Linked DNA regions of Homo sapiens. The protein of the gene in region 2 interacts with the protein of the main gene of each other region in a biochemical or structural test. Each region holds a gene or a part of one and is shown on either strand. Other genes may lie near its edges. The genes, in order: RAD18 and SLF1.

Evidence for each region.
Region 1: the proteins of SLF1 (region 2) and RAD18 form a complex in vitro, tested with the Homo sapiens proteins (one study listed by BioGRID).

What each region holds. Positions count from the first base shown.
Region 1 is NC_000003.12:8,900,936-8,904,767, forward strand, and holds part of RAD18 (E3 ubiquitin-protein ligase RAD18), read right to left. Parts: intron 1,586-3,832; coding exon 1,445-1,585; intron 1-1,444. UniProt on the Homo sapiens protein: E3 ubiquitin-protein ligase involved in postreplication repair of UV-damaged DNA. Postreplication repair functions in gap-filling of a daughter strand on replication of damaged DNA.
Region 2 is NC_000005.10:94,694,742-94,698,300, reverse strand, and holds the end of SLF1 (SMC5-SMC6 complex localization factor protein 1), read right to left. Parts: exon of another isoform or gene 3,480-3,559; intron 3,471-3,479; coding exon 2,989-3,470; 3' UTR 680-2,988; downstream 1-679. UniProt on the Homo sapiens protein: Plays a role in the DNA damage response (DDR) pathway by regulating postreplication repair of UV-damaged DNA and genomic stability maintenance.

The DNA.
Region 1 (3,832 bases), on a different chromosome or scaffold from region 2:
AAAAACTTTTCTTAATGGGAAATATTCAGTCAGATTTTCTCAAGTGCTAAACTAGTTTCTAGAAATATCCTTTAACAACTGCATGAACAAGTTCGAGTTGTTCAATGACCATGAGTTACATACTGAGGCAGCACTTTATGCACAAATTGTTTATTAGTCACTAGGGAAATGCAAATCAAAACCACAATGACATACCACTTCACATCTACAATTTTTAAAAAATTTAAAAATCAGAAAATAACAAGCATTGATGAGGATGTGAAGAAATTGGAACCCTCATGCTTCGCTGGTGGGAATGTAAGATAATGCAGCCACTATGGAAAAGTTTAACGATTCCTCAAAAGGTTCTAAACATAGAACCAGCATATGAATCAGAAATCGCACTCTAAGCTGAAACTTAAATATCTGACCACCAATGCTCATAGCAGCATTATTTATAAGAACCAAAAGGTGGAAATAACCATAGCAGATAAATGGATAAACAAAATATGACATATACATACTATGGAATACTGTTTAATCAAAAATTTTAAAATATTTTAAAATTTTAAAATGTGCTACAACATTGAAGGACTCTGAAAACATTATGCTTAGAGAAAGAAGCCAACACACAAAGACAAATATTATACAATTCCATTTATATGAGGTACCTGGAATGGGCAAACTCATAGACACAGAAAGTGGAATTGTTATTACCAGGGCTATGAGGCAGAGGGGACGGAAGAGTTGCTATTTCATGAGTGCAAAGTTTGTGCTGGGAATGATGAAAATGTTTTGGATATAGACAGTGGTGATAGTTACACAATATTGTGAATGTACTTAATGCCAATGACTTGTACATTTATGAAGGGTTAAAAAGATAAACATTGTGTTATGTATATTTTACCACAATATAGAAAAACATAATAAGCAATTTTCTTGCGCACTTTCCCCCATTATGATTCTTTTTTGTTCACTGGTCCAAAGCCCAGGCAATAGAATTAAAATATCAATTTCAAATTTTAAAATGGATCAAAGTTAAGGAACGTGCTCTGTATTAGCCTACCAGGTATGTTAACTTTAGACTGTTTGGCAGAACATTTCATCCAAAGTAAACACCAGTGTTCTATCACAAAAATAATTCACTCTCTTTACAGGATCTCCACCAATAAATTCTATATCTAGAAAACATCCTGAAGCTTAAATAACAAAGAAATTTATGATTTATCATTAACTGAAAGGACGATAGACAAAAAGAGATTGTTTCTTCAGGACATTCTTCCAACCACTTTCCCCATAGTAATAAATCTAGTTTACAAACTGCTACATGAAGTTTGTCTAAAAATACTTTTTCTCATTTCAAAGAACTAAGAACTCCAAAGTAAATTTCTTTGGTTTAATTTTTTCATATTAAAAGTAAATAATGAAATTCGACATATGTCTGTTTTTAATTATAGTCTCTTACCCATGCATACAGAAGATAGCTTTTCTGTAGATTCATCTTCTTTTGTTATTGTTACTGTTTTTTGTGACATTCCAGCAATTTTCTTGTATCCTTTTCTAGCCTGATCCACCAGAAGCTGAAATTCACTCTTATGTTTTTTACCTGAAATTCAAAAGATCTTCTCAGTAAAGCTAGGACTATGAAAGTTAACCATCTACAACTGACAAACTGAATATCAAGAGGTGTACAAGGGATGGGCATGGTGGCTTACGCCTGTAATCCCAGCACTTCAGGAGCCTGAAGTGAATGGATCACTTGTCAGGAGTTCGAAACCAGCGTGGCCAGCATGGTGAAACCCCATCTCTACTAAAAATACAAAAAAAATTAGCCAGGTGTGGTATCACATGCCTGTAATCCCAGCACTTTGGGAGGCCGAAGTAGGTGGACCATTTGTCAGGAGTTCGAGACCAGCCTGGCCAACATGGTGAAACCCTATCTCTACTAAAAGTACAAAAAAATTAGCCAGGTGTGGTATTGTGTGCCTATAATCCCAGCTACTTAGGAGGCTGAGGCACAAGAGTCACTTGAACCTGGGAGGCAGAGGTTTCAGTGACCCGAGATTGCACCACTGCACTCCAGCCTGGGCAACAGGGCAAGACTCTGTCTCAAAAAAAAAAAACAAAAAACAAAAAACAGAGGTGTACAAGCTTGCTCAAGAACAGCATCCTTAGGAATCACTTGCAATAAATTTAAAAGCTGCCAAGCATAAGAATACAAAGGGCTGGAGTGTCATGGAACCTTCTTTTTATCTTCTCCCTTCCTCAAATACAAATATGGAAACATGATATTCCTAGTTAGCTACTCTAGGTTTCTTCCCAAACTCCATTCTCTAGAAAGGCTTTTACATAATCATAAGAGCATGAAAGATGCCCGCTTTCTTAAATATATACAAATGATACCATTCTAACTTCCAAGATACAAGAGAACTAAGAGTATTTGCTGAATCTAAAATAGAAGCTTCTAGGAAAGTTGAATCATCATAACAAAGGAATGTCCGTCTACTCCAGCTCTCCTTTTTTTCTTCACATTTCCGGCCGGTTTCCCAGTAGAGCCCCTTTAAGATTCTAAGATCTCTCCCAACCAATTCTACCTTATCTTACGATACTATACTAACTCTAATCTTTATTTACTACCATTTTAACACCTTTGAATATAATTAACCCTGACCTCAAGATCATCATTATTAATGTACCAATCTGTTCAATAAAGAGCAGCCAGTCATCATTACTGTATGGACTTTAGGGCATGTATTTGTGATTCTGAACCATGCAGCTGAGGTCACAGTTTACTTATCTAGCAACGTTAAATACTTAGGCCACAGTCCAAAGTAATGTCATAAATCCTATAAAATTTTTAGGGAGAACCATACTACAAATGGTTAAAACAAAATTTTGACACTGTTTTCATACAAAAATCAACAATGTACTTGTTATCACTTGGTTTCTTCCATTTTCCTTAGCATAATACTAAGGCATAGGGAATTTACTGGGTGTAGGGAAAAAATTGTGCTTCAGTTGAACTATGGCATTGTCTAAATCTACTCTCCCAAGATTCCAGCCATTCACTGCCTTTGAGCTATGGTATAACTCTGTATGTTGTAGATAACTGAGAGCAATGGAAAATAATTCTTGTCTATAGATATGCAAAATCCTGTTGGGTGGAGGTTCAATTGACTTTCCTCCTCCAATGTGGAAGAAGCCAGTTTTTTGCTCATTATACATTCATTTCAATGTTCCTCATCTGTAAATGTGATGATTCTTTGGCTCCTTCTTTGATCACCTCATAATATCAGTCTTCTCTCTACTAATGAGTTTAAATCTTTAATAAAAACACATGTTCATTTTACATCCATATGAGAATGATGTTAGTTGTTTTTGAAAATTATCTTTTAACGCAAAAAGAGAAAACACTAAATTGTGACGCACAAGGAAGAAAATAGTTGGATTCCTATACATGAATATTGACAGGCACAGCAAAGACATTCAGGAAAGAATGCTCCTAATTACAATATTTTTATGTGTATGGTACATGTATGAAAACTTCTAGTGAAACTAATGTTGGGCTATAAAATGTATGGCATATTTTAAATAAAAGACCAATTAAAGTGTCAGCAAAAGAAATATATGCTGGCCGTAAAGATCACTGGAAAAAACTAACTCTTTACAAACAAGTGAGATCCTATCTAGGACACAAGCTAGGTGATTTCTTTGAGGTCCTATTTCACTCTACGCACTTGAGGATAATTATCTTGTATTTCTCTGGCTGCTTAGAATCAATGGGCTAACACTACCATCATCATTATGTAGTTTCTATTAGGCGAGGGTGACACAGTACTATGGGATCTACATA
Region 2 (3,559 bases):
CAAGTTCACCGCTTAACTGGAAAGGTGTATAAAGGCATAAGGATTGCACATTCCATGGATATTTTTTTCATGTGAAGGTATTCATTTAATTAACTTTCTATAGCAGCATAAACAAAAATGGCAGATATTTTCTGGAGGTTATATAAAGTATCTTAGTGTAATGCATTTGTGCTTGCTTAAAAATACTAAGACTGCAAAAGCACACCCTACACCCTATCCACTCTAAAATAAAATTGCTAAAATAATACTCATCAAAGGATTAAAGTACTGGACACTTGAATATTCACATTTATAAACTAAAACAGAACACCAATTATTACTGAAATTAATTTTTTAGCAGATGTAGAAGACAATAAAATTCACAATACTTAAGCCTTATTTACCTTCCTAGACTGTGGGCCTTTCCTCTTTTTTTGTAGTTAGCCCTTGTCAAGCACACCACCTGGTTCAGAGTAGGTGTTCAAGAAATGCTGAATTCAAAGGAATTAATTTCACATTTGACTTTTATGAGGATAAATGTTTTTCTGGTCATCTTGGAATGAATAAAATGACAGAATATGTATATACTTGGATGATTTTATTCTGCAAAGTGAAATTAAAAATTAACAACCTAGAAAACTCTAACTTCAAAGAGATTTAAGAAACTGCCAGTAAACAATGCATGGGGAAAAGCTGAATCTTAACTGCTCAGAAATCTCCTCTCCAGCTTTATTTACATTGTAATAAGGTCTCTTACAGAAATTTAAAAAATATGATTCCATAGAACTATGATATCACATCTGGCAAAATACAGTGAAGAATAGCATTTCTCAACCTTGTCTTCAGATGCAACTTTGAAAAGTCTGCCATTGAAAATCTAGGACTAAGACTATGAATTATACTTTACTTATTGAGAATTTCTTCTTCCTATACCTCCAAGATAGATTTGGGCAATTATTCAAGGCAATTATTATTATGTTTTCTAAAATAAAGTATAAGAAGTAATTTTGGGAATGAAGCCTTTTCCTGAACATTTAGATTCATACTCATATACTGGTATTGTTAGCCAGGGCACAGAACACAGTAACCTATGTTTGCCACGTTGGACTTTCGAAGAAGTGTAAAACTTCTTAAAGGCAGAGACCTCAGTGACATCTGTTTCACACTTCATGTCATCACTGCTTGTAGAAGTTGGCAGACAGAGCAGTCAATTATGAAATATTAATGCTAATTGCAATTAAACAAATATACGTTATGAACATCTAATTTGGAAAACTACTTTGTACTAACAGTATAAAACCCTAACTCATGATGTTGATTCCTTAATTACCTTAGAATTACTACCAACTTAAACAATTACTATATTGCCTTTTGTCTAAATGATTCATTATAATCAAAAGAGGAGGTAAGAATTAGAAAGGAAATAATATTTATTAAGTGTCATATGATGTGATATGCTAACAATTCTATCATGACAAAGATACCTGGTGTGATTTCTATTTGACATGTAGGAAAGCCAAAGCTCAGAAAAGAATTTGCCTTGCAATTTAGTTATTAAGAAACTAGACAAGGATTTGAAAATGTGTATGATGTCAAAGCCTATGTTTACAAGTTTATATTAGTTTACCAAGCAAACACTATCCCAGACACCTTTACAAGTGAAGTAAAGAGGTACTCATTGGAATAAAAAACGTTCTTATTCATCATCTGGAGAAGCACTTTACTCTCTATAAGCATTTAAACTCTTCTTAGATAGTCTTCACTATATCATTTTTTGTCTGATACTTTGGCAGATTAATAATAAAGAGATTTGTATGATGCCAAATTTGAAGGCTAAATAGAAACTAGTATTTCCTGAGTATGTGTGGAAAAAGTACTTATTTAAAATATTTTTTCATACTGATATAGCAGTTTTCAATTTAGATTACAAACCCAGTAATATGATACTGAGCATTTGTATCTTGTTAAAATATCTATTTCCAAAATAAAACTGAAGTGTATTGCTTTAGCAGATTAACTGCTAAGGTCATCACTTGAATTACATAAAAGCTAAATGGAAGTGTTTATTTTCCACCTGTATCATAATGTAACTTACTCCCAGTAGTGAAGAAACTCCAATCTCAAAAGTGGTTATTATCCACACCCTTTCTTTTAGTTTTACTACAAACTGCTATAAGGAAAAACTGCAAATTAAAACATTACTACTCAGTAAATTCATACTATATATTAAGATCTTAAATAATCTCAAATCTATTACTTAGATGCCACTCAATATCTTAATATTAAACTCATAAACCTATGCAGCAGAATGTTTTCAGGTACAGAATACTGGGTTACATAGGGCAGCGACAGATACATTTTGTATATGAATTGCTAAAATAAAACAGATCAAGGAATTGAACTGTCAGACTCTGCATATTTGCTGCATTTAAAAACCAAAAGAATATTAATTATTACTGTAAATTTTAGAAATGTTTATTTTAGAAACACACAAAGCTAAAATGCATATTTCAGTCCAACAACCTAGAGAGAAGAAATAGGGAGCTACATGTTTTTGTTTAGTCTTGTTTTTTCCTCAAAATCCATCCCTAAGAGTCAGGAGCTACAAGTTTATAGGTACGCATTTGTATGAATATGCTTGCCATGATTCTAAGACCTAGAACATCTAGAATACAGGACATTACATTTTTATTTGAAAAAATATTTAAATTAATTTTACATGTACAATATAATATCACTTTCAGAACAAAAAAACATTAATGAAAGTAGAATATACTAAAACAAAATTATTTTTACTTTTGAGTCAAATTCTACACCCTGGAAAAAGTCAGAAGCCCATACTAGAGTTTTGTAGAAGTTTTTTTAAAAATGCTTTTAAAATTTAGCAAGGCTGCAAAGTCTGTCAATAAATAAATCAAATTACTATCTGTCAGTAAGCTATGAAGTCCACAGTAAGTACCAATGCAAACTGAACAGATTTAGAAAGTCAATCCATACTTTCTAGCATCATCATGAAAACTCCATGACTGACCGACACATCATTTCCAATGTTATCATCAAGGCCTCAGTGTGTACCCCAGGACACACTTTCAAATTCTCAGGCAGTTCCTTAAGAATGTGTGGGAGTTTCTGCAATGTCTTTATATTTCCAGCATAAAGATCCAGTAACCAGTCAGTATGAACACTGGTGGTTTCTTTATGACTTTTACAAGCCATAAGCAGTTCATTTAGATGAGTTAACCCTTTGGAAGCTAAAATGAACTCTGAAGATAAATCAAAAATTGAACAAAAATTTAGCAACATCCTACTAAGTAAAAAGGAGCCAAATTCAAGTTGCTGGTAATGAAAATGTTTCTCTGCTTGTGCATGAAAGTTCTCCACTGTATCTTCTATTTTTGTAATAGCAAACAGTTCTTCTTTGATTTGAGGTGAAACCACATAATCCAAGGGCAATTCTCCCTTAGCATTCCTCTGTTGTAAAAGCACTGGGCCTGTGAAAAGAAAATGCAAAATGTTGCAAGTAAAACATTTCTATTTTGGCAGCTTAACAGCTCTTTTCTCCTTTTTCCCAAAGCATCCA